Linked DNA regions of Homo sapiens: region 1 is linked to region 2. The links come from fine-mapping of genetic effects on gene expression. A gene starts in region 2. The other region holds a variant in brackets. All regions are shown on one strand. Distances are from middle to middle. Region 1 overlaps PIGV (phosphatidylinositol glycan anchor biosynthesis class V). Region 2 holds the start of ARID1A (AT-rich interaction domain 1A).

Evidence for each region. PIP is the estimated chance that this variant, and not a neighbour inherited with it, causes the effect. A credible set is the group of variants that fine-mapping cannot tell apart.
Region 1: its variant is the best candidate, but not a certain one, in a credible set for the expression of ARID1A in lymphoblastoid cells (TwinsUK, PIP 0.72).

The regions. Positions count from the first base shown.
Region 1 is chr1:26,792,323-26,804,083 of GRCh38, reverse strand. PIGV (phosphatidylinositol glycan anchor biosynthesis class V) reads right to left here. Exons shown (of 4, transcript NM_017837.4): 3 at 8,850-9,971; 4 at 3,425-6,521. The coding sequence ends at 6,240. Among named protein-coding and RNA genes, the nearest start is that of PIGV, 10 kb to the right of the region's middle. RefSeq lists an enhancer at 3,751-4,000. The variant TTTTTTG/G (reference allele first, on the strand shown) is at 8,369.
Region 2 is chr1:26,687,865-26,703,517 of GRCh38, reverse strand. ARID1A (AT-rich interaction domain 1A) reads right to left here and starts at 7,503. Exons shown (of 20, transcript NM_006015.6): 1 at 5,978-7,503. The coding sequence starts at 7,114. LOC124900417 (translation initiation factor IF-2-like) reads left to right here and starts at 7,113. Exons shown (of 2, transcript XM_047439473.1): 1 at 7,113-7,301; 2 at 7,553-11,610. The coding sequence starts at 7,113. The coding sequence ends at 8,239. It overlaps LOC101928728 (a long non-coding RNA gene), which reads left to right and starts at 9,387. Exons shown (of 1, transcript NR_135804.1): 1 at 9,387-11,608. It overlaps LOC105376888 (a long non-coding RNA gene), which reads right to left and starts at 14,336. Exons shown (of 3, transcript XR_001737950.2): 1 at 14,281-14,336; 2 at 13,153-13,227; 3 at 12,706-12,742. RefSeq lists silencers at 5,890-6,489, 6,540-6,869, 7,240-7,399, 7,490-7,819 and enhancers at 6,798-7,733, 7,734-8,670, 10,503-10,602, 10,319-10,833.

The DNA of each region.
Region 1 (11,761 bases), 100 kb before region 2:
GACCGTCTCCGCCCGGCAGCCACCCCGGCGGGGAGGGAGGTGGGGGTCAGCCCCCCGCCCGGCCAGCCGCCCCGTCCGGGAGGGAGGTGGGGGGCTCAGCCCCCCGCCCGGCCAGCCGCCCCGTCCGGGAGGTGAGGGGCGCCTCTGCCCGGCCGCCCCTACTGGGAAGTGAGGAGCCCCTCTGCCCAGCCAGGAGCCCCTCTGCCCAGCCAGCCGCCCCGTCCGGGAGGGAGGTGGGGGGGTCAGCCCCCCGCCCGGCCAGCCGCCCCGTCCGGGAGGGAGGTGGGGGGGTCAGCCCCCCGCCCGGCCAGCCGCCCCGTCCGGGAGGGAGGTGGGGGGCTCAGCCCCCCGCCCGGCCAGCCGCCCCGTCCGGGAGGTGAGGGGCGCCTCTGCCTGGCCGCCCCTACTGGGAAGTGAGGAGCCCCTCTGCCTGGCCAGCTGCCCCATCCAGGAGGGAGGTGGGGGGCTCAGCCCCCCGCCGGGCCAGCCGCTCCGTCCGGGAGGGAGGTGGAGGGGGGGGTCAGCGCCCCCTCCCGGCCAGCCGCCCCGTCTGGGAGGGAGGTGGGGGGGTCAGCCCCCCGCCTGGCCAGCCACCCAGTCCGGGAGCTGAGGGGCGCCTCTGCCCGGCCGCCCCTACTGGGAAGTGAGGAGCCCCTCTGCCCGGCCACCACCCCGTCTGGGAGGTGTACCCAACAGCTCATTGAGAATGGGCCATGATGACGATGGCGGTTTTCTGGAATAGAAAAGGGGGCAAGGTGGGGAAAAGATTGAGAAATCGGATGGTTGCCGTGTCTGTGTAGAAAGAAGTAGTCATGGGAGACTTTTCATTTTGTTCTGTACTAAGAAAAATTCTTCTGCCTTGGGATCCTGTTGATCTATGACCTTACCCCCAACCCTGTGCTCTCTGAAACATGTGCTGTGTCCACTCAGGGTTAAATGGATTAAGGGCGGTGCAAGATGTGCTTTGTTAAACAGATGCTTGAAGGCAGCATGCTCGTTAAGAGTCATCACCACTCCCTAATCTCAAGTACCCAGGGACACAAACACTCTGCCTAGGAAAACCAGAGACCTTTGTTCACTTGTTTGTCTGCTGACCTTCCCTCCACTAGTGTCCTATGACCCTGCCAAATCCCCCTCTGTGAGAAACACCCAAGAATGATCAATAAAAAAAAAATTAAATTTAAAAAAAAAAAAAAAAACACTTTTCCGGGAGTAGAGGACTCTAAGGAGCTAGAGCAGGACAGTCACAAAATGGACAAGACTGGGTCCCCAATAATTGGGCGGAACAGACCTCCCTTCCTAAACCTGCACTAGACTATGAAGTAAAAAAGAAAGGAACTTTTATTATTAAGCCACTGAGTTTTGGCGGTTGTTTGGTATCGCCGTTAGCCTACCTTGGATAATATCCCTAATCCCTAAATTCAATAGTTTTTCTCATCCTTTCCTTAACAGTATATGACCCTGCTAACCATTTCTTTCTTCTTGAAACTTTTTTCTTGAGACAGGGTCTCACTGTCACCCACATTGGAGTGCAGTGGTGTGATCACTGCTCACTGCAGCCTTGACCTCCTGGGATCAGGTGACCCTCCCACCTCAGTCTCCCGAGTAGCTGAGACTACAGACGCCCACCAGGATACCTGGCTAATTTTTGTATTTTTTGTAGAGATGGGGTTTCACCATGTTGCCTAGGCTAGTCTCAAACTCCTGGGCTCAAGCGATCCACCTACCTCAGCCTCCCAAAGTGCTAGGATTACAGACATGAGCCACTGTGCCTGGCCTTGAAACTCTCTTTTCCGCCAATGATACAATTTGTTTCTGGTCCTTTAATGATAATAATGATAATACAATAGCTACCATTCATGAAGTTCTTGCCATACAGGCACTGTGCTAAGTGCTTTATCTTCATGACTGCCCATGTGGTAGATGCTATCACCCCCACTGTAGATGAGAAAACAGGCTTAGAGAGGTTGAGCCACCTACCCAAACTCTTTTTTGTTTTTTGTTTTTTTTTTGAGACAGAGTCTCACTCTGTCGCCCAGGCTGGAGTGCAGTGGCACAATCTCGGCTCACTGCAAGCTCCGCCTCCTGGGTTCACGTCATTCTCCTGCCTCAGCCTCCCGAGTAGCTGGGACTACAGGTGCCCGCCACCACACCTGGCTAATTTTTTGTATTTTTAGTAGAGACTGGGTTTCACTGTGTTAGCCAGGATGGTCTCGATCTCCTGACCTCGTGATCCGCCTGCCTCTGCCTCTCAAAGTGCTGGGATTACAGGCGTGAGCCACCGCGCCCAGCCAACCTACCCAAACTCTTACAGCCCCTCTCTCTTCTCTCTCCACACTCTTTTTTTGACAATCCCATCCAACAGCATGGCTGCTGTAATTACCGTGTCTGTGTGCATGGTTCCCTGACCACTCTCTTGGTCTCCAGTTCCACATTTCCTGGCACATAAATGTGCTGCTTGGTATCGTAAACCCAACATGTCCAAAATGCAGCTATTGCTTTGTTAGCACTGTTCTCAACACTTTTCATATGGTAACATTTAATTCCCACCACCACCCTATGAGATGTTATTATTCTTTTATCTATGAGCTAGATATTATTATCTACATTTTACAGATGAGTAAACTGAGGCTTAGAGAGTCAGTATCTGGCTCAAGTTTACACAGTTAGTACACAGTAGAGCTGGGCTTGGGGCTGATTTCAAGGCCTAGATTAAGACCTCAGCTCCATTCACACTGGTTTCTCCCTGTCCTATCCTGTTCCATTTCCTGCCTTCTATATTCATTCTGTACCCTGAACTTTCAAATCCTCCCTATCATTCAAAGTCTAGCTCAACTATCATTGGTCCATGAAGTCTTTTCAGGTATCCCAAGCTGGAAGGGATCTCCATCTCGTGTAAACTTACAGAGTACATGCTCTCTGCCTCACTTACCTTTTTCTAAGCACACAAATAAAACTTGAATTCATTCTAATCATAAAAAGTTCAAGTAGGGCTGGGCACGGTGGCTCATGCCTGTAATCCCAGCACTTTGGGAGCCCAAGGAGGGTGGATCACGAGGTCAGGAGTTCGAGACCAGCCTGGCCAACATGGTGAAACCCCGTCTCTACTAAAAAATACAAAAATTAGCTGGGCGTGGTGGCGGGCACCTGTAATCCCAGCTACTAGGGAGGCTGAGGCAGGATAATTGCTTGAACCTGGGAGGCGGAGGTTGCAGTGAGCCGAGATCGCGCCACTGCACTCCAGCCTGGGTGACAGAGCAAGACTCCGTCTCAAAAAAAAAAAAAAAAAAAAAAAAGTTCAAGTAGTGAGATACAGAGCAAGAAGCTTCAGTGTCCTTTCACTCCCCAGAATTTATTGCTTTCTGCCTTAATGTTTCTGTGTCTGCTAGCAACTCTTATTAGACAGTTATTTGAGGACAGGAGGCATAGCTGAGTCATCTTTATTCCCCTAAAATAGGCATTAATAAACAATTACTGAAAGAATCAATCAGTTTCAAATCCCTTGAGCCTGCACATATTACATTTTCAGATGACAGTGAGAGGGTCTATTCAATAAAAGTAACATTTTTCCAGGAGGACTGGTAAAGGTATGTCAAACACTCTCCTCCCACCTTCATTAAAGAACAAAAAAAAGCATCTACTTCTAGGTACGTGAGGCTGAGGCGTCTGGTTTCTGTTTTAGCAGGGTCTCAGAAGGAAATGACTTTTCTCTGAAACTGTAGACACCCCACCTAGCTGTGGCATTGTTAGGCCTCAGGGTAAACAGGAAACTTCCTGCCTTGGGTCCTTCATGTCCCTCTCCCAGACTATTAAAGAGACTGTTAATAGGATGGTAAAAGGACAGCTGCTGGTCATAAAATCAGCCCATTCCTTAGCTCCTTAGAGAACAACTAAATCCCTGCAAGGTCAGAGAGAAAACCTTGTCCAGCTCATGCCAGGTGCACCCACCTAGCTGGGCTCCTGTTACAAGGTTTCTGGGCATGATGAGATCTAGTGTGAAGGTTAAACTGAGACTGCCAGAGCAGTGACATCACACCTACTCTGTGGGGTCTGAGTCACCTCTTCCAGTAGAGGAATAATCAGTCCTGATTATCCCCCAAAAGGAGGCAAAGAGGAGAGCGAAGAACCCAGTGCTCCTACCTCGGCAATAAAGAGCTGAAACAGGACCCCAACACTTCCTGCACGCAAGGTGGAAGTCTCTGGATTTGCAGCTGTTGGCAAGGAGAAAGGGAACAGTTTCTGCCAACTAACTGGAGGGACACTAGGGCAGGGGTGATCATCGTTTGCCAAGAAGGGCACTTGGTGTCTTGGCAGAAGGCAGAGGGCTGCCCTGATCTGTGTGTACATTTTCAGAAGCATTTGACTCTGAACCAAATTCTCTCAGCTGTCCTAGTGCTGGGGCGATGGATGGGAAATGCTTATTGGCCAGGCTGACCAGAAGCTCCAACAGAGGGTGCTGGGGCTCAGCCAGGAGCTTCCCTTCAGCTGGCAAGTTGAGCTTTCTGTCATGGTCAGAGGGAGTGTGTCAAAATTCCAATTCTTGAGGCTTTCCAGAAGCTGCTTATGATTACCCATCTGTTTTGAAGAGTTTCTGCTTACTGGATGTTTTGGCTTAAATGGGAAATAAAAGAGGTGATGGATGATACAGAGCCAAACTCTCGTCTGGCTCAAGGAATGGGCAAAAGTAGCTCAGCAGGGGCCAGTGATCTTACTACCATTATAGTGATAGGCTCATGACCAAACGGGGGCCAGGAAGCAGGGCAGATACCATTTCATTCCACCTTGGACTTACGTACAATTTACCAATTCCTGCCGCCGTGTTGGCGCCTCTGACCCATGTCTACTGATCAAGTAAGCAGGCATCTGAGAACGGCACAACAGGCACCTTATCTGCCAGATGTTACTGCTTTCCCTCATTGAAAGGAAAGACCACCTAAATTACTCCCAAGAGTTGCACTCGGTGGAGGAGGAGTTTCTTCTAATTGCTGAAAACAGGAGAACTGGATATTTTCTCCTAAAATCACACATTTAAGCCTCTACATTAGCATTTAGACTGGGGTGATTCTGTTGTTTAAGGCAGTTCTTAAGATGTTAGAGCAGAAAGGGACCTACAAGAGACTGCATCATTCACCACCACCCCCTGAAGAATATCATCATTTCCCATGGTTTCAGAGGTGGTAACTAAGGTTCTGAAAACTCTCCCAAGTCACATGGCTGGTAAATGGGGTTTTACTGAGAGGACTAGAATCCAGGGTTCCTGATGCCTTCTTCTTACCCTTTTTTCCCCCAGCTGATTTATATTATTTTAACTTTTTAAAATTATTTTACTTTTTGCCACATGGAAAGATTTGTATTATTTTTATTTTTTACTTTTTTTGAGACAGAGCCTCACTCTGTTGCCCAGGCTGGAGCGCAGTGGCGCAAACTCAGCTCACTGAAACCTCCGCCTTCCAAGTTCAAGCAATTCTCATGCCTCAGCCTCCCGAGTAGGATTACAGGTGTGTACCATCATGCACGGCTAATTTTTGTATTTTTAGTAGAGACGGGGTTTTGCCATGTTGGCCAGGCCGGTCTCAAACTCCTGGCCTCAAGTGATCTGCCCACCTCGGCATCACAAAGTGCTGGGATTACAGTGTGAAACGTCGTGCCTGGCCTGTATTATTTTTAAAAAGGCAATTCATTGCATGTATAACTGAAAGAAGTTTAATTTGCATATCTTTGTAAGTTTTTTTCATATAAAAATACATGCACAAATCATAAAAAAAAACATCAGAAACAATGTCGCATTTGGAAAAAATGGTCCCACTTTATTACTGCCACTACACTGTTCAGGCCTATACCATCTTGTGTGGACTGTTACCAGCCTGTCAGCTAATGCCTTTGATGAAATTTACACTTCAATAAATTGACATTTAAATTTACACACAGGTCAATGGTAGGTTTAAGACTGTCTCTGCTATGTTGATTGACTAGACAGATCCAGGTGTATTTTAGACTTGGAATACGACAATCTTCACTTACAGAGAAAATAGTTGTCTAAAATTTGCCCTAGCCAGGACCAGAAGGGGCTCTCTAGTGTCTGACACTTCTCCCATTCCTGACCAGCTTTCAAAGAGAAAGAGAAAGATTATAATGGACACAGTAATGATCCCAGGGCAGCAGAGGCAGTTCCAATGTGTATTTTTACTTTCAGACCCCTGGGTTAAGTTGGCTTCCAACCTGTCCCTGGAGAGTCCAGGTCATGTCCAAGGCAGGAAGTTGCAATGTAGGAGTAGTCCCAGGAGCCAGTAAGTCAGGAAGTAGCCTAGAATGTATCGTGTGACTGGAGAACAGGTTTTCCAGTGATACAAAAGTCCCATGATAGGATTTCTGGGGACCTTTTGTCCTGGTGGGGAGTCCTCTGCAAGAGGCTTCCAAGGCACAGTCTTTAAGGATCTCAACAGCGGCTCTTGATCCTGAAGCAAGTGAGCTGGAAACCAGTACATAATAGGAGTGGAGGAGCCCAAAAACCTGGTGAGAACCTAGAAATCATGAGAGGGGAATATCCAGACATTTACTGGAATGTCACTGACTCAAATTGGACCAGCCCGGGGACTTCTCTACTGCTGGGTGAACTATGGTCCTGTGACTAGAAATGTATTACACTGGAAAAGAAATTGAACACAGCTTAGGATCTGTCTTAGAAAGATGTATGTACAGCAGACAGGCATCCTCCATATTACAAATAAACATAGCTACAGACTAATTACATTAATTACTATTAAAATAATGGGCCAATTAATACTAGAAACTCTATGGGGTCTAATTTTAGCCGAGGGCCTGGACTCTAAACTCTGTGATATTGATTTGGGGATTGGGAACCTGAGGTGGTTCCCTTATCCCATGGGATGGCAAAGCAGAGGGAAATGGGCAGAAGACCCATTGCTTGAACATTCTCTCTCCTATTGGAGTTCAGACACAAGTTTCCAAATGGCCTCCCTCAGCTAACCTGGAAACTTTAAGCTTTGCTGGCACACATTCTACGATTTAATCTAGCTAAAAACACGGAATGCTACTTTCTATTTCCTCTGTGTCTCTTATCCATACAGCTTGGAGAATTTTAGAAACAGCCAATGTGCAACTCCAACAGGAAGAAACTGCTAAGAGGTCGGCATGGGGAAAAAAGATGTCCCCAGGGTGGGGCCACAGCCAAGAACAGAAAATCAGATATAAGATCAAACCTTTCCCATCCCTCTCTATCACCACCGCCACCACCCAAAACATTGGTTAAGGTTATCTCCTCTGGAAATTGGGGGCCTGCCTGAGTTGAGAACCTCCTGAAGTCAACAGTCAAGAAACCAATATGGATATAACTATAACTGTGTATTAGGGAAAAAGATCCCAGAGATATCCTCCGTGCTTATTCCTGTATCTCAGTCCAATCAGGTCCTTTCACAACCCTCGTGTTTTTGCATATGCCCTTCCTTTTACCTAGAATGTTCCTCCTCTGCTTCTTATATGGAAAATCTCATTCTTCAGGACCCAGCTGAAATATGATGCCTTTCTCAAGTACTCCAGTGAGTTACCTACTTCTTCGCCTCCATAATACTTTATCTGAGCTTTAAAAAAAAAAATCTTGCTGGGCGCAGTGGCTCGTGCCTATAATCCCAACACTTTGGGAGGCCAAGGCGGGTGGATCACGAGGTCAGGAGATCCAGACCATCCTGGCTCACACGGTGAAATCCCGTCTCTACTAAAAATACAAAAAATTAGCCAGGCATGGTGGCAGGTGCCTGTAGTCCCAGCTACTCGGGAGGCTGAGGCAGGAGAATGGCGTGAACCTGGGAGGTGGAGCTTGCAGTGAGCTGAGATCATGCCACTGCATTCCAGCCTGGGTGACAGAGCAAGACTCCGTCTCAAAAAAAAAAAAAAAAAAAAAATCTCAGGCCGAGCGTGGTAGCTCACGCCTGTAATCCCAGCACTTTAGGAGGATGAGGCGGGCAGATCACTTGAGGTCAGGATTTCGAGACCAGCCTGGCCAACGTGGTGAAACCCCATCTCTACTAAAAATACAAAAATTAGCTAGGCGGTGGTGGCAGGCGCCTGGAATTCCAGCTACTCGGGAGATTGAGGCAGAAGAGTCGCTTGAACCCAGGAGACACAGGTTGCAGTGAGCTGAGATCGCACCACTGCACTCCAGCCTGGGCAACAGAGCGAGACTCCATCTAAAAAAATAAATAAATAAATAAATAAATAAAGTAAAATAAAATAAATCTCAAAATAGCACTCCCTTTTCTATCCCACTGTACTATAATTTATGTCAAATGTCTGTCCTCCTATTTATACCATGAGACCCCCCAAGGCAGTAATTTTTTTTTTTTTTTTTTTT[TTTTTTG/G]AGATAGAGTCTCACTCTGTCGCCCAGGCTGGAGTGCAGTGGTGCAATGTCAGCTCACTGCAACCTCCACCTCCCGGGTTCAAGCAATTTTCTGCCTCAGCCTTCTGAGTAGCTGGGATTACAGGTGCCTGCCACCACGCCCGGCTAATTTTTGTATTTTCAGTAGAGACAAGGTTTCAACATCTTGGCCACGCTGGTCTTGAACCCCTGACCTTGTGATCCACCCACCTCAGCCTCCCAAATTGCTGGGATTATGGGTGTGAGCCACCGCGCCTGGCCGCAATTTTGTCTTATTTATGTTTCATCCTTAGAGGTCTGACCCAGAGTCTGGCATAAAGAATAACCCTAAATAGTCATTGAATGAATAAATTCAGTATGGATCACTCAAACGGGAGATGTTAGCTGCCTTCCCTGTCCTTGGCCAAGGGGTTTTGCCTGTATTCACATCCTTATCCCAGTCAGGAATCCACCTCACCTGAACATGCATGCACAGACCTCCAAACAGCAGCAGCACTGCAGCGTGGACCACGTACACAAACACCTGAGGACTGAGGAATCCAAGATCGGGCTTCTCTAGGGTCTTATTGTTCTTGCTCCTTTGCAGCCCAAGTGTAAGGCAGAGCCAAGGGTGAGTGGTCACGTATGTCCAAGTTGCCCAGGCAACCAGTATAGCCACTGGTGCAGCCAGTAGAAAATTGGGCACCTGCTTGAGCTCATAGTATTTCAAAAAGCCAACATTCCAGTAGACATCCTGGATATAGCTGTATATTAGTGGAACATCCCAGAAGCACCAAGGCGGTTCATTTCCCTCTGCAATCCGGTAGCCCTTGTCTACAGCTAACTGTACCAAAGGCTCAGGAATGGGGCGGGCTGAGCCTGGCAGACAGAATTGGGTGTAGGCATAATACTGAAAGAGGGCAAAGGGAAGGCCAAGTGTGAACACCGACAGAAACAGAGAGGCCATCAGCTTAAAGAGCTGTCTCAGAGGATTCAGCATCGTTAGAGAAGAGAAAAAGCCTTGGCATTGAGAATGCATGAGGAAGCCAACACTGACCAGCCCGTTGGAGCGTACCCCAGTGGCAAAGGCAAAGAGGAGTACACTAGTCCAGACTCGGCCCCTCTCCAGCTGCCCCATGGCACTGAATGTCAGGAGGGCAAACAAAGCTTCTGAGTAACCAGCTGCCAGGAAGACATTGGCAGGGCTGAGACAGAAAAGCAGAGCTGCATAAAAGGACTGGTGGGGACAGTGCAAAACCAGACAACCCAGGTCATGAAGTGCAACTGCAGCCAACATGAAGAACAAGAAATTGAGTGATGCTACCGAAATCAGCAGGCAACTGCGTAGACTCAGTAACCCCCGTAAGGGTCTCAACAGTTCAGTCCCCACCAGCAGGGCCAAGGGGAAACCAGGAAAGAAGGCAAAGTTGTGCTCATACAGGTAGCCATGCTCAGCAATGAACAAGAAGTGTTCAGCATCCCAGTGAGACAGGCCGCCCAGAAGACCTTCCACGAGTTGGTCCACAAAGCCTGAGGGGGCCAGGCGAGGAGGAGAGAAGGCTTCTGCATGGTGATCTGGGATGATGGCATTGAAGAGGGCCTGTGGAGTAAAGAAAAACCAGAATTTTGGTTGAGTAACTGGAAGAAAAGAATTGCCATTTAATAAAATGAGGAAGAAGGCCAGGCTCATGCCTGTAATCCCCACTTTGGCAGGCTGAGATGGGAGGATTACTTGAACCCAGGAGTCCATGACCAGCCTGGGCAACATAGCAAGACCTTGTCTCTATAAAAACTAAAAAAAAAAGTCTGAGCACAGTGGCTCACGCCTGTTATCCCGGCACTTTGGGAGGCTGAGGTGGAAGGATCACTTGAGCCGAGGAGTTTAAGACCAGCCTGGGCAACGTAGCAAGACCTTGTCTCTACTAGAAATAAAAAAATAAAAATTAGCTGGGTGTGGTGGCACATGCCTGTAGTCCCAGCTACTTGGGGGGGCTGAGATGGGAGGATTGCTTGAGCCCAGGAGGTTGAGGCTGCAGTGAGACATGATTGTGCCACTGTATTCCAGCCTGGGTGACAGCATGAGACCCTGTTTCAAAAACACTTAGAACTCTTCTTGAGGACTGAACCCTGGACATGTTAACATCTGAAGGCTAGAAAGAGGATGAAAATCCAGCAATAAAGAAAAAAAGGAACAGTCAGTGAGGTGGCAGGGAACCCAAGAGAGCATTAGAACCAAGGGAAGAAAAGGAGTGATCAACTCTGTTAAATGCTGCTGGTAGGTCAAGTAAGATGGGGGCTGAAAACTGACCACTGGATTTAACAATGTGAAAGTAACTGGTGACTTTGACAAGGGCTATTTCAATGGAGTGGAAGAGAGAGAAGTCTACCTAGACTGGGTTCAACAGAGAATGGGAGAAAAGAAACTTTGAGGAGTTTTGCCATAAGGGGAAGCAGAAAAATGGGGCAGTAGGTGAACAACAATGTGGGGTAAAGTGAAAACTTTTTTTAAGGTGGGAGGTAAAGGTTTGTATGCTAGTGGAAATAACCCAGTAAAAGGGTATGCAGGAGAGAGGGGAGAATTGCTGGGTAGGCAAAAAGGGTACAAAGGTAGAGGAGCCAGCCTTAGAGAAGAGGACAGACGGTTCATCCAACCTTCAGTACTGAAAGCACAAAGGTGCAGACATAGGTAGGCTGAAGAATGTGATGGGCGCATATGGAAGGTCTCTTCTAATGCCTTCTATTGTTCTGAGTTGTCATTTAGGAAAACAATTTGTTACATGTTACATGTTTTTCTCTTTCCTCAAATCTCTAACACCCTTTCCCCAGAACTCACACTCAAGTGATAGACTCTTTTCAGGACACTGCACACATCATCTTCATTAATAATGAAATCACCAGGAAATCAATAGAAGTAGTGCTGGGAAGAGTGACAGTGAACCAGGAGCCAAAACCGTCAAGGATTAGCTGTCACTGACAGAGACGACAGCAGCAACGAAGGGTAACTTAGGGATATACTCTGATGGCTTGAGCATTGGAAGTGGGGGGATGATAATTAAATCGCATTTACTGTTAGATTTCTTTTTGCTGGCCGGGCGCGGTGGCTCACGCCTGTAATCCCAGCACTTTGGGAGGCCGAGGCAGGCAGATCACGAGGTCAGGAGTTCGAGACCAGCCTGGCCAGCAAGGTGAAACCCGGTCTCTACTAAAAATACAAAAAATTAGCCGGGCGCGGTGGCGGGCGCCTGTAGTCCCAGCTACTCGGGAGGCTGAGGCAGGAGAATGGCGTGAACCCGGGAAGCGGAGCTTGCAGTGAGCCGAGATTGCGCCACTGCAGTCCGCAGTCCGGCCTGGGCGACAGAGCGAGACTCCGTCTCAAAAAAAAAAAAAAAA
Region 2 (15,653 bases):
TGCTACTATATAAACAGCTAAGTCAAAAGGGCACTTCCAGGACTCTGGTGTAAAAAACACTTCTTATAAAGAAAACTGGTGTCAGAATCAATGAATCTAGTTAAAAAAGACATTCTGAGAAGGCAAATCTGGTCATCTCACAAGGCTACCAAAGAAGAGGACCACAGACAGACAGCTAAAATATTCATAGATTCTTCTTCTTCTTCCATAAAAAGAATGTGTCACTGAAGGAACCCAGATATGTTTTTAATCCTAAAATGGCAATTTCAAAAACAAAGACTGTATCTACTCACATAATCCTTCAAGTAAGATGTAGTGAGTCCCCAAATATTTGGACTTTGTACTGACCCAGGAACAGAGTGTAAAGGCATATTAATTTTATCATAAGTGATACACAGAAGTCCAGTAAAAACTGTATAAATAAACCCAGGCCATTGGGTAGTGGACTTATAATCCCCAGCACAACAGCAAAATTGAGGATAAAGATCACACTCAAGTTGCAGTATCTTTTTTCTCCTTTCTAATATTCCAGAAATGCAAACCCAAGCCAAAAATAATCTCACCAAGCTACCCTTTAAACCTCAAAGTCTCATAAGCCAAGTGTCTGGGGTAATACTTACCTTACTATTGACAGTCAGGATCTTCTTTCCAAACTTCTATTTTCACTATGAAACTGCAATTGACTTTAACAGGATACCACATGCCCTGAACTTAGCACGCAGCCAGGGCCACAGAGGTTTCACTACCAGGGCAGCATCTTTCCATTTCAATTTTTTTTTAGATCACTTCTTATCTCCACACTCACTGCCCCCCAGCACTACCCTTTTCCTATCCCCAAGTCTTTTTCCCCAATGTTATTTTACTCCACCACATGAGGAGGCTAGCATTATCTTTGCTTGAAAACTGTTTATTAATTTGCCTGTCAAACATTCTATAGAACAGTTTACATCTTACTACAGAAACCTCCTGGGTACATATTGACAGCTCAGCAAGTATTTACACAAAGCTCTGAAACATTTGGTTCCTTCAGAGACGATAGAAGATGCTGTGTCAAGCACAGAATTATCAAACACTGTTCCCTCTACCCTTTTCCCTCCTTTATAAAGGGAAGCTTCCTTCCTCTAATATACCTAAATTACACTTCTAAACTACTAAGCCAGGAAGAGAAAGAATGGAAATTCAGGTGTGCTGGAGAAGAGAAAGAATAGCATTTCCAGGACCACGTGCAAAGCACACCATGTAGTTTTTTAAACCATAGCGATGAGAAACAACAAATGCACCTATGAAATTGACCCTGAAACGCAGCTTTTCCTCTTCCAGTCTCAGGAACATTTGCTTCTCTCTCAGCAAAACTTACAGGGCAAGTCCAGGCACTCAGATTACAACCAACTGCCCAAACCAGACCTAGACCTGCCCAAACACCAGGAGTCTGGAGAGCTTAATGCTCCCTCTCTCTCCCTACCCCTCCCCAAAAGCAGCAGAATATCAACACTGAACTTATGAATATCCATTCCTCACCCCAACCCCAAGTGCAAAAGCCTCCTGGGGATCCTGAAGCAACTATTTTTCAAGTCTTGCTTTAATGAAATCTACCTAACTTTCCAACGACTATTTAGTGTTTTAAAACCACCAGCCAGGTGGAATGACTAATGACAAACAGATTAACAGTTTCAAGGCAACAGTCTGGTAGAGCTTTTTCTGTAAAAGTCTACAGACCACAATGGCACCCAACTGTTCAGAGCTTGTTCCTGTGAATCCCAGGAGAAAATAGCTTTGAGTTCCTTCAGTCCAGGGGAAGAAAGATGGTCTCAAGACCCCTGATTTATGTACAGAAAGCTGCCTTCATAACAAGCCAGCTATGGAAGCACAGATATGTAGCATCTTAGAGTGAGAAGGCCATGCAGACCAACTTCATTTTATTGATGAGGGAGAAAATGAAAAATAGAGAAAGCAAATGACCTGCCCAGGGTCACACAGCTTAATCTGGAGCTGTATGTGGAACCTAAGCCTCCTCCTTCCTCCTCCTGTTGTGAGTCCTGTGCTCTTTACCACTAACGCAACACACAACTCAAGTATGCATCAGTAATAACAACGTAAGTGTGCGTCAGTAATGATAATGACCAATCTAAACAAGGAAAAACCCAGAGATAAAAGCCACAGGAATCAGGACTCCATTCAAGCCCCAGGTATTACAGCTCACTGGCAGAAAAGAACTACTCGGTGCCAATATATTTGAATACCACATTTTTACCATATTTACAAGCTTCAGTTGCTTCTAGAATTTTGAGAGTTGAAGCCAATCAATACAACCTTTTGAGGGATGGGAACAGGAAAGAGCCCTGCCTATTACTTTGTTAGCCTATTCCCTCATTCTAAAAAAGTTCACTAACCTCTTTGCAAAAGGTCTACTGTAGACATTACACCTACAGGAGTCAATCCAACATATTAATGTTTAATGCAATCCAAGACATCCTGTTTCAGCAGGTGCTGCTTGTCATGGTTACTCATGTCACACACAAAGAAAGGAACCTAAAAAGTCCTCACAGGGCCCAATACACAAGAAGCCAAACCTGGTCCTGGCTGCTTTCTCTGTTCTCACACCACCATCTCAATCCTCATCACCCCAGCTCTCTCATGAACAGTAGAGAAACATGAAACCCCCACAACTAAAGTGCCATCTCAGTGTGGTTTTCCTGGTCCCTCCTACTTGAGAGAGCTCCAAGAGTCCTGTATTTCAGCCAGCCTAGAATTTCTGCCAGTAGGCATTCCCATAATAAATCTAGGATTCCTGTATCTGTTTCCCAGGAGTCAGAAATATCATTTGATGTTTCCGTAGTAGAAACTAACAACCAAACTTCTACAATAAAATCCAACTTGTTCCTGGACTATTTATTGTATTTTATTTTTTACCTTGGTAAACTGGTATTACTCTCAAAGTATTATTGCTAAAAAGCGTCCCAATAAAAAGCCTTAAATCAACTTCATGTGTGTAAGTAATCTAAAACTATTTCATCAGTACCGGGATTCAACACTTGAGATACACTACTTATGAAAAGGAATAAAGTAAAAGTTTGTCTAAGATCTTCCCAGGTCCTGTGAAAAAGACATAGCCACAATACACACACTTACCTAAACTTTATTTCATAAGCGCAGAGTCAAATGAAAACGTTATCACCTTAGCTGTGTTAATTAAGTCTCTGCAAAATATTCTTAATCTAAGACTGCGCCAGGAAAAGATGGAGACAGAGCAAGACTTTTTAATTTAAGAATGTTGAAGAGTAGAGCATCATGGTCTGAAAAGAGGTTTATCAAGTAGCAAAGAGAAATTCAGAACAAAGTCTGAACCTACAACCCTCACCTAGACTACTACCACACACCTGAAGCAGTCCACAGAAGTGGAAGCTGCACTGTCTCTTACACAACTGAATGCTCACCAGCCCATTCCCTGGGTCTCTGGGGAGTAGACAACTGAGCTGAAATTAATTAGGAATCTATGTTGTGTGGGTCTAGTGATAATAAAAGAGATCAGAAAATTCATCCAAAGGCAGCACAGACAGGCATCCAAACAGGGACTGTATCTATTCTCCTATCATCTACACAGAAAGTGTTCCATAATTTACTGACTGAAAAACAAAAATCATTATACCAAAAGAGTTGGCTTTTTCTTTAAAACCTTTGACTAAATATTTCCAAACCAGCAGAATTCCAATCAATTTTGCTTTTAAATGAACCCTGACTTACTACCCCAAATGACTTATTCTAATAGTTTTCAAGAAAAGTAAAATTTTCAGCCAAAACCAAACAAAACAAGGGGAATGAGAGGAAAGAGGTTCAGACTATAGGATGACCCAGAGACAAGAGGATGCTGTCTTTTAAGACAAAACTTTTCCTCCAGACACTAGAAAAACAATGTAACATTTCCCTATTTCTTGTCCAGATGCAGAACATCATGGAAGATGTAGAATCAAGGCACAGAGCTCCAAGCCCACCATCTAACACAGCTAATTTCAAAATCCCCAGCTCAAAAGAGTAGTAAAGTAGCTCTAGGATGGGCTGGGAATACAGCTAGTAAGTGAACAAAATTTCCTCCTAGCACAAAAGCGCAAGGGGTTTGGGAGGGGATGAATGGAGCTTCCCCCTCTTTGAAAACATGTATGACTCCACAGAATACTCAATATCCCTGACCAAAAGCACTGCTGACAGAGCATGATGAAGATGGAAGAAAAGCAACAAAATAAAACAAGATAGAATAGTGTAACAAGGTACTCAGAAGTTGCAATTTCTAAGCAAATCTTAAGTGTCATTCTAGGTCGTATCTTCATATCTTGGAAGACAAGAAAAAAAGTGGAACATACATTAAAATGCAAAGGAATAAACTGGCCAGTCTCTATTTCAAAGCTCTAAAATGACTGATGACAAAACAGAAAACTAGACTTTTTGTTATTCCAGGAAAAAAACAATTTCACCAAACCAAGCCTTTAGGAGAAAGTCCCTCAAGATCATGAAAGACACCAGCTTCCCTTTAAATTAAGCTGCTATTCCAAAGTTCAATTAACAAAAGAAAGTGTTAACAAGATTCAACATGTAAACAAAGAATGAGGCCAGTCTTCCTTAAAACAGACCGCTTGAACCTAATATAAAATTCCTCAGAAAGCTCCCAGTTCTAAAAAAAATAACAAAAACTGTTTTCTGGCCCCCCATAAAGATCCCACATTTGCCACTCAATAAAAAGCCCAGTAAAATCATTTCAATTCTGCAAAGCAACCAGTGTCAAAATTACTCAAGATAAATGCATCTTCAGAGCCATCAAAGAAGTCATTTATACCATCAGGAAAGTCACAAAACCAAAACAAACAGCAAACCCATTGTAGAGAAAAAACTCAGCTACTGTTCTGACAACACAGAATTCATTTCAGGCTGCATAAAACATAACAAGCAAAATAAATCCAAGGTACAAGCAAAATGCCATTGCCTCCTCTTTTGTTTGGGCACAATGTAACAAGGGCAGGCTGTCTGAGGCTTTGCTCTTGCTGATACAGTATTGCTACTTAAACCTCCCTCCTCAAGGTCACAGCCAATTTCAGCTCTGGAATAAAAGGCAGATAGTGGCAGCGATAGTTTGGGTTATCACTGGCAGAAAAGCAGAGTGTAAAAGTTTATGAGCTCATCAGGATTGTTGTACCATTACATCAGAGGCAATTATAAATGGCCAAGAGCAGGAGATGGGGAGCCAATCAGATCACAGATAGGATGTCAACCTAAGACCAACTGTCTCCTGGCTTTGACAGAAGGATTTTACCTCCATAATTCAAATCCCAAACCAAAGCAATCTGCACTTACTACTCCAATCACTCAGCTGTTTACCAGCACTTCCAGGGAGAAGCCCAGGCCACTGGGCCGGCGGAGCCTAAGACAGGAGATGGACCGGGCTGCCCTAGGTGAACCGCAGCCGGCCTCTAGCAGCTCCCAAGCAGTCCCCTGCCCTCCCCTCGAGGTCCCCTCGAGCTCTAGGGGCCCTCTTTGAAAGCACAGATGGGGGGCGGCCCAGAGGAAGGCCGGGGGACGGAGAGGAGCGGCAGGTGAGCAAAGAAACGTTCATTCAACTCCTGGGCTCCTACCACTGCCTACACTCCTAACCTGAGCCCCCAGCGCCCCCTCACCCCCTCACCCCCGGCCAGGCCCTTCCCCGCACACTCTGCCCCGCACCCCCATCAAGACCCCTGGAGTTCGAAGGGACCAGGGGAGAGGAAAAAGAGGAGCAGACACCTCTGGAAAAACCCAACACAAAGGCTGAAGGAGGGAAGGAGAGGAAGGCAGACAGGCAGCCATTTTAAGAGAGAAGAGCCAGACAATGGCAGCTCCCCAGCAGTGGGGGCCCGGGACTGAGGGGAGCCCAAGGCTGTGGCCCGCTCACCGCAGCCGCCACCCACCCCCAGGACCACGCTCGCCCCAGCCCCCTCCCCACTCAGCTGTGTACCTGAGGGGTCCGGGCGAGCGGCTGCCCCCCGCCGCCGCTGCTCCCGGGGCTCATGGGCGCGTGGTGGCTCCTTTGTTGGGCCCCTCCCGAGGCGGCCGCCGCCGCAGCTGCCGCCGCCGCAGCCCCCCAACACTGCGAGGCCATGTCCGCCGGGCCCTTGCCGGCGCCCCCGTCCTGGGGCCCGCCACTGTAGTCGCCCCCGGGGTAGCCCTGGTAGCCCCGGGCCGAGCTGGGCGACGTGAGCAGTTGGTTGAGGGTGGGGGTGGCGGTGGGCTGGGGAGTTCCCCCGCCGGCCGCGGAGGGGCCGCCTCCCCCCATGGCCCCGAAGCGCTGCTGAGCGAAGGACGAAGACGACGAGGAGGCGGAGGCGCTGGAGGAGGGAGGCGGCTTGGAGCCGGCAGCCGCCGCCGCGCCGGAGCCCGGAGTGCCACCTCTCGGGGAGCTCAGCGCGTAGGCCGGGGCGGGCGGGGGGTAGGCGCTGCGGTTGGGGTAGTAGGAGTTGTACTGGTGGTTGGGGAAGCCGTGGTCGTGAGAGTTCTGCTGGGGCCCCGCGTAGGGCTCCAGGCCCCCGCCGCCGCCGCTCTGCAGCGCTGCCAGGCCAGGGCTTTGTTGTCCGCCATGTTGTTGGTGGAAGACGGCGGCCGCGGCGGCGGCGACGGCAGACGGGCTCCGGCCGTAGGGTTGCCCGAAGCCGTAGGCTGGGGGCGGCAAGGCGGCCGCGGCTGAGTGAGGAGGCGCCCCCACCCCATCGCTGCTGCCGCCACCGCCGCCGCCGGGCGGCTCCGTGAGGTTATTGTTCAGGGCGGGCCTAGGGCCCGCGTTCCCGTTCGAGTTCTTCAGGTCCGGCTCCGCGCCGGGCCCGCCGCCGCTGCCGGCTCCGCCGCCGCCGCCACCCCCATTGCTCTCGGCCCCGTCCTGCAGCTCCTTTCCCAGCGGCTGCGGCGGCCCCACGGCGGGGCCCTCGCTTTCCTGCCCGGCGGCTGCCTTCATTTCCCCGCGCTCGGCCGCTGCCGCCGCCGCCGCCTCGCCCCCCGCCTCCTCCCGCTGCTGCTGCTCGGCTTTCTTCAGCTCCGAGGGCGGCGGCGGCGGCGGGTTGCCCAGGCTGCTGGCGGCGGCGGGGGCGACCTGCGCGGCCATGATCCCCGCTGTCTCGTCCGCGGAGAGACCCGGCCCTGTCTTCGTCTTCTCCCCCCCTCCCACCCCGCCCCGGGGCCCAGTCCCCCGGGCTGCCCTCCCCACCCGCCCGGGCGGGCCTCGCGGGGCTCCGCTGCTGCGCTGCGCTCGCTCCTCTCCCCCCCGCCCCGCCGGCTCAGGCTCCGGGCTGGCGGCGGCGGAGGAGGAGGAGGCGGCGGCGGCGGCCGAGGCGCCGGCGGCTCAGCTGCTCCCGGCTCTGTAGGCTCGGGACCCGGCTCTCCCGGCTCATTCCCCCCAAGCCCTTGCCTGGGAATGAGGGGGGCGGTGGAGGCTCCGCTCCCCAGGGCCTGGCCCCGCTGTGACTCTCCGCTTTCTGCTGCCGGAGAAAGGAGGAGGGAGGGAGGGAGGGAGGCGAGGGGGAGGGGGCGGGGAGGGAGGGAGGGAGCGGGGGGAGGGGGACCCGGGACGGGCGGGCTGGAGGGCGCGCGGCAGCAGCCGGGGCGCCGGGAGCCAGAGTCAGAGCGCGGGCCGAGCCCGGCGCCCTGCCTCCCCTCGCCAGCTGCGGCTTGGGTCGAGGCTGCTGCGCGGCAGCGGGCGGGCGAGCAAGCGGTCGGCCGGACTGAGCGGCTAGAGCGCCCCACTCTCCTCCGAGTCCCCCTCACTCCGACACGAGGCTCAGCACTGCCATTTTACCCAGCGCCGTCGCGGCCGCCTGGCAAACCCGGAGTGGAGAGCGGAGCGGGCGCAGGCCGTGGAACGGACTCGCTCCCTTCCCTTCACAAAGGAGGAGGGGAGAGAACAAGCCGCGGCGGCGGCAGGCCCTCAGCCGCTTTCGCTAGGCAGCGCCGCCGCCGAAGGCTTCGGAGAAAACCCGGCCCGGAGCCCGCGCATCTCTGGAGCCTGCGCCGCCTCCCTCCCGGCGTCCCTATCCAGGTCTGTCCCCTCCCGGCCGTACCGAGGGGAGCGGGCAGCGTGAACTTTACCCGCGGCTGCAAAATTGGCCAGAGCCTGAGACCGCGGCCGCCTCGGCCCAGCCCTGACCCCCTGGCAGCGGGCCCGGTCCGTTGGCTGCTGCTTAGCACCTCTACAGCACTTTTCGTCTTCAAAGCCTTCTACGGACCCCGCTAAAGACCCAACCTTTTTTACCCTCTTTGCAAGCCCGAAAGAATGACTGATCATTGTTCAGACGATTCGTTTCCCACTCGCCTGCCCTCATTAGCCGGTCCTTACAAGGCTCTGGGGGCATGAGGTCCGGATTATCCCCATTTTACAGAATTGAAAGAGAGGGGAGGGAACTGCCTGTCACTTAAAGTCAGAGGGCAGAGGAGGGTGACTTTAAAAAGAAGTGGAGTCACCAAAGCTGCCTTCGGTCTACTTGCCTTTAAAAAAAAAAAAATCAAGTTGTGAGCACATTCAACAATGGGATCAGAATATCAAAATGGATTTGAAGTCAAAACTGATCATCTCACCACTAACTTAAAATGGAGGCCACTGAAGTTGCTTTAGGAGCATAGAACAGTTACCCAGCAGGAAAACCTAAACACCGTTTCTCACTCCCTCTTAAGAAAACTTAGCCTACCATGACAAGTAGCCCCAGTCTCCAAAGACAGTACCTTCTAATACTGAAAACCCACAGAAGAGGCTCCAGGGACTGCAGGAACCTGAGTGTTCAAACCATTACAGAAGAGAGATGCAGAAAATGGAAACCATTTTCTCCTTGAAGAAAAGGCACAGTCCAACAAGTCACTTAGAAAATGGATGCTTGTCAGATTTGTTTTCTATCCTGTAGCGTAAAGATTGTTTAAAGTTTACCATTACATTCTAAGAGACCCCGATTGAGCTGGAGTTGGGTAGAAGGCCAGGTTTATCTGAAAAGATCGACATACACAGAAAGCTCCAGTGTTCTCCTGATCTACAGGCCCCACCAAATCCCAGCAGCAGCCTTTTCTTCCTCAGGCTGACTTGGAATGTTCTGATATGACAGGCTACAAAAGCCAGAGGGGATTCCAGCTCCTCACCAGACCCAAGGCTGCCTTGGGAAAGGCCCAGGCCAGTGTTCCTAGACACCAGGATCTCTTTTCCCCCTCAGATTTTGTAAAGGGAGACTTCATGGCCACAGGAGCATTATCTTAGATTATGCAGGACCCGGGAGTGCTGGCAATGTCCCTGGTCACTATGAATAATTCCAAAGCCTGAACTCATTTCTCTCCCCAAGAAAACTTACTGCATCCTACACCAGAAAGGCAAAACCTTCCTGTTAATCTAAGAGTGATGAGATTTAAAAAAAAAAAAAATCCCACAGTTTTATTCTTCTCCCCTCCCCCGGCCTCAAGCCAAGAACCAAACCAGCCTACCAAGAAGATCCGACTGACTGGTATGGGCCAGTGCCCTCTTTTCACTCACAGTCCTCAGGGGCAACAACTCTCCCCGGTGCATTAGGTCCTAGAAACCAAATTATAGGCTGCCTCATAAATAGAGCTTGGCTATTTAATCAACTGCCCCTGAGCTGGCAAACAGTCCTGAGTCCTGCACACAAATGAGGATTTTTTTACATGCCATTACTCTGCCATTTTCCTTAGAGCTGGGGTGTAATGGGAAACCTGGAGCCCAGTGAAAATCTGGAAGCTAGAATGGATTTCTCTCCAAAGAAAGCCCTCATCCCCTTTCTTCAATGGCTGTGAAATATGGAAAGCGCCAAAAATCTCCTTCCCTACACGTGGGCAAGCTGTTTTGAAAACAGTCACCATTTTTCTCTAGCAATAAGGTAAAGTGCACAAAAATCTATCCACCTGGGTTGGAGGAGATAATGTGGAATTTCTCTACTTTTTTTTTTTTTTAATTCACTAGGGTTCTCTTCCACTTTTACTTTTAGAGCCCCACACCACGATCCCAGGAAATGTTGGGCTGAGGGAACTTTTTTAGAAACTGGCCCATCAGCTTTCCCTAGGGGCAGTGGCAACGGGAAAGCGGGGGAGGGGAGGAGCTGGGCACGTGGCTGGCCCGAGCAGCGAGACCCCGGCTGGGGGCAGTGGGTCCTCCCTTCGGTGGAGTTTTTTCCCCCACGGCCCCTGCCTTTTAACCCCACACCCAGGCAGCTCAGGAATCCCGGCGCAGATTGGAGAACTAGGACTAGGACAGCGCTACCCTCGCGAAAGCACCTCGGCCAACAGCCTGATGGCAAATATGGACTGAATCGTTGACATGGAAACCGGACTAAAGTCTCGCTAGCTCTCCCTCACAGGAGAGTTCTTATCGCCGTCCCCGACCGCACGGCACTTAGCAAACGCGGACTGGATTTGAGGCCTGGAGGATCAGGCGGAGTTTCTGGGCGTATTAACTCCAGCGGCAGAGCAGCCAAGGAAGGGGGCAGGGCTGCCAGGACAAACCGGCTGAAAATGGCAGAGGATGTGCTCCCATTTTATCCGGCTGCACAGCGTGCATGGATTGGGCCCGAGGACAAGGGAACAACCTATTAAAATCCAGAGAGTCAACTGCAAAATGTGGAACCGAGGCCTGGAGGGTTTGCTAGGAGAGGGAAACGTTTGCAGGGAAGACAGCCCTTCCTTTCTCGCAATTTGCTTCCCCTAAATGTCTGAAATACAAAACTCAACAAACAAACAGAAGATCGGGCTCGGCTCCTTCCTCCACCCAATCCTTGTGGGAGAAGTCGTCTTAAGCCCAGGGACCCTAGCGAGGGTTTGCTTAGATTCCTAACTAAGGCGTGGAGAATCGCTGGAGCGCCAGGTTGTTGCCCCCACACGTTCCCGCCGCGGAACAGCAGCAGACACCCAGCAGAGCTCTCTCGAGTGCGAACTGGAGCTGCGAGTTTGAGCAAAAGGGCAACTATGTCAGTTGACGGAAGCCAGAAGCAGAGTTCAAAGCCTGGCGTGGATTTCCGTCTGGAGCTGTCTGTTCTTAAAGTTTGTAACTCCGTGTTAAGAAACAGCCCCAGCGGAGGCTTTGGGATCGGTGTGAAAGTCTAGCACTACCATCTGACAGCGAGCTGCAAAACTTTGGGCTGCATATTAAGCGAGGAAAGTGGATTGAAGCGAGAGTCAAGGCAATTCATTATGTTACCGGCTCCCATACGGGAGCTGTAAAATACGAACTGGATGCACACACGGAGAAAAATGGAATGAACTCGGAATGGCATTCAACAGCTCTTCGCGGTAAAACTGTGACTGCCAAGGATCTAGAATCCCAAAGGAGCAAACCAGGAGGCCTCAAACTTGGTTGGCACACAATAAATGCTTTTCTAGATCTTTTCCCCACTCATCTCAAACTCTTAAGCAATTTGGGGTCATTTATATTTCAGAATAAGGAACACATTTTGAGAAATGTTAATTTCTGAATGAGACTTTTTTTCCCCAAAGTAGCTGTGAAAAAAAGAGCCTCAGGCATAAGTCAGCCAGCTTATTTTGTCTCAATATAAATTAAAAATTACCCTCACCACCACCTCCACCAAAACTGAAATAAAAAATAAAATAAGTAAAAGTCCAGGCTGGTCTGGCTTGTGGCAGGTTTCAAACAAAAATAACACCCAGGGCCAGTCTAATATGAGGAAAAAGATACCAAGGCTTTCATATTCTTCTAAGTACAGCCTCACTCACCAGTCTCACTGGTGAGCTTGCTGACCAGTGAGCTTATTTTTGTGGAAAAGACTGAGTAAAGCTACTACTAATATTTTTTAAAAAAACAAAAAACAAAAAAACGGGACTGGGGTTTCATAAAACCACTGGGCAGATCAGGAAATTTGGATTTCTTATTTCTGCTGAGCTCATTGAAGATTTGTATTCACCAACTAATACAAAAAATACTGTATGAAAAACCTACTTAAAGCTTGAGCCGCGCGTGGTGGCGCACGCCTGTAATCCCAGCACTTTGGGAGGCCGAGGCAGGCAGATCACGAGGTCAGGAGATCGAGACCATCCTTGCTAACACGGTGAAACCCCGTTTCTACTGAAAATACAAAAAATTAGCTGGGCGTGGTGGCACCCGCCTGTAATCCCAGCCACTCGGGAGGCTAAGGCAGGAGAATCGGTTGAACCGGGGAGGCGGAGGTTGCAGTGAGCTGAGATGTCGCCACTGCACTCCAGCCTGGGCAACAAAGGGAGACTCCGTCTCAAAAAACAAAAAACAAAACAAAACAAAAAAAAGCTTGATAGCCTCTTCATAGTCAATCAAAAGAGAAACTTAACAATTTTGTGCTTGGTACTTATTACACTAAGCTGTTTTTAGATCTGGAAGGCTAAGCACCAACAATATTACCAAGGTAAGGTCACCAATCTTAGCACAGAAGGCTATTGCCCAGGAACAGGAAAAGTCTGTTATCTAGGATTTCCCATGTTAAACCAATGTAGGTTGCTTTTGTTTTGTTTTGTTCTTTAAAACCAACCTAGGGAAATTTCACACATATAAAATGATTATAAGGGAAGTTTTTGAGAGTTGACAAGAAAATCAGAAGGAAAAATCAAACACTGTATTCTAGGTGGAGATTTCTTTCAGCCCTTGCCTGCATAAAGCTTTCTTACACTGCCATTTTACTGAGTTAGGAAAAAGAGTCAGTGGGGAAGTTTCTCACAGCAACTCTGGAATGGATCTGGAATGGAGTCTTTTATTCCAACACAAGTTCTGTAGAAGAGTTGGAAAGAGAAGGAAAAAACAGTGTAAGCACAGACAAAATGGAGGGAGGCAGGCATGCAGTCCTATGAAATAGGATAGGTGGCTAAAAAAGCAAATGTGCTGTCTGTTCTCTGCAAAGCAACCACCTTAAGAGAATCCTCCAGCATGATGATACTGGGTGTTTTTGTATAAGAATCAAAGAAAATCCAAAGAAATCTATTAGGTATAAGACAGGAATTGAGTGGCCCCTAATGAAAAACATTCTGACTAGCTTTAATAGGGTTTAAACCCATCTATCCCTACAGAAAATGCCTATTCCTAAAGATAAAATGGACCAAACAAAAAAGTCAGGCGTGGGAGTGACTACTATAGTCATAGTAGCAGTGTGGCACTCCACTCCAGTGAAATGCGGAACTTACCAATGACACCAAGGGAAAGCTGCCAGGAAAAATCAGACTGAGTTTTGGCACTTTTCCACATTATCACTTTCTTCCCTGAAATTTAACAATATTGAAACTGGATTCAGAAGTCACCAGAGGGGTTGGGGGTAGGGACCAGCAGGTTGGTTCTTATTGGCCTACCCCTCCAAAGAGACTACTAGAGACCTGTATAGAAGTGTGTTGTTGCTCTTCTAGTCTTGCTGTGGGAGGGAGAGAACAGGAGACAATGGAGGAAATAATCCAGCACACTTCATCAAGCCTATCCAACAAGCCATTTAAAAACAATACGGGAGGCCGAGGCTGGCAGATCACTTGAGGTCAGGAGTTCGAGACCAGCCTGGCCAACATAGTGAAACACCGTCTCTACTAAAAGCACAAAAATTAGCTGCGCATGGTGGCAGGCACCTATAATCCCAGCTACTCAGGAGGCTGAGGCAGGAGAAAATCGCTTGAACTCAGGAGGCAGAGGTTGCAGTGAGCCGAGATTGTGCCACTGCACTCCAGCCTGGGCAACAGAATGAGACTCCGTCTCCAAAAAAAAAAAAAAAAAAAAAAGCACGGAAACACACACACACACCTCTATCACAATGTGTATTCATTAATATAACTCATCCGCAAACTACACTCAAGAGCACACAGTGTTGTGCAACATTAGGCACTATTTTTGCCCCAAACACCAAAACCAGGATGGAGATTACACATTTTTACTAGGCCCTTTCGACTTCAGAACAAAGCCCAAGAGCTCATTGAAGTATTTTTCTCCTAATCACTCACAGCTACTTAAAAATATGGATACTCTAATTAGCTGGGCGTGGTGGCGGCCGCCTGTAGTCCTAGCTACTCAGGAGGCTGAGGCTGGAGAATGGCGTGAACCCGGGAGGCAGAGCTTGCAGTGAGCCGAGATCACGCCGCTGCACTCGAGCCTGGGTGACAGAGCGAGACTCCGTCTCAAAAAATTAAATAAATAAATAAATAAATAAAATATGGATACTCTGTCTAACAAAAACCCGAGTTTGTGGCTAACGTGTTTGCCCCTTTAGCCCAGATAAAGTTGGAAGTCCAAAGGGTTTAGAAAAGAGGGATTCTAGTTGACTCCACCACACCTACCTTCCAGTTCTTTATGAAGTAGTAGCCAGTGTTTCCAAGGTGGAATCAAGGAGAGTGGAAGTACCACACAACCTTCGGAAAGAAAATATTCTCTAGGAAAAAGCTTCAAGGTGAAGGAGGTTGCAACCTGATTGGCTACTGAGGGTTTTTAGGAGTCCATCATTATTAGTACAATTTGTCACTGATTGTAGAGAGGGTCGACAGAAACCATTTTATAATCTCAACCAAGTAATGTAGACCAAGACCGCAGTCTCTACCCTAAATACTCACCTTTCATGATGAAGCAACTTTACCCTATGCACTTGTTCATCCTCAGCAATCCTTGAGTTGCACATGCTCTTCTGACCCACTTTCCACCAAAATCGGTCTTCTCCTAAGACTTAGAAATTTTTGTGAGCCTGTTATTCTTTCAACTAGAAATTAACAGTATGATGATTGCTAATAATAACCATTCCAAAGCTGTATTTTAAAACTTCATTAAGTACCTTGTTCCTTGATTTAACTACCTCCTGGAATACTTATTAATGCTATAGAAATTACATTTAGCGCCGGGCACTGTGGCTTACACCTGTAATCTCAGCACTTCGGGAGGCCAAGGCGGGCGGATCACCTGAGGTCAGGAGTTTGAGACCAGCTCAGTCAACATGGTGAAGCCCTGTCTACTAAAAATGGAAAAATTAGCTGGGCGTGGTGGCGGGTGCCTGTAATCCCAGCTGCTTGGGAGGCTGAGGCAGGAGAATTGCTTGAACCCAGGAGGCAGAGGTTGCAGTGAGCTGAGATAGTGCCACTGCACCCGAGGGCAAGACTCTGTCTTGGGTGGGGGGTCGGGGGGGGGGAATTACATTTAGCTACTACTTGGCAGTAGAATTTTATTTTACTTTATTTTATTTATTTTTTGAGACAGGGTCTCACTCTGTTGCCCAGGCTGGAGTTCAGTGGTGTGACCATGGCTTACTGCAGCCTTGACCTCCCTGGACTCAGGTGGTTTTCCTGCTTCAGCCTCCCTAATAGCTGGGACTACAGGCATGTGCCACCACATCCAGGTAATTTTTAAAAATTTTTTCGTAGAGACAGGGTTCGCCATATTGCCCAGGCTGGTCTGAATTCCTGGGCTCAAATGATCCTCCCACCTTGGCCTCCCAAAGTGCTGGGATTACAGGCATGAGCCACTGCACCCAACTGGCAGTAGAAATTTCTGAAATTCCACAATAAAATTCATAGGAGAGCCCTGCAATAGCAGTAGTGCTAGGACTAAATGCAGTGTCAAACAGGAGCAGTCATGCTGTGCCATAACTGTTCACTGACATCACCTTTTGACTGCCTGTGAGTGATTCATATTCTCAGTTATCTGCTAATGTGAAGATTAATTAATT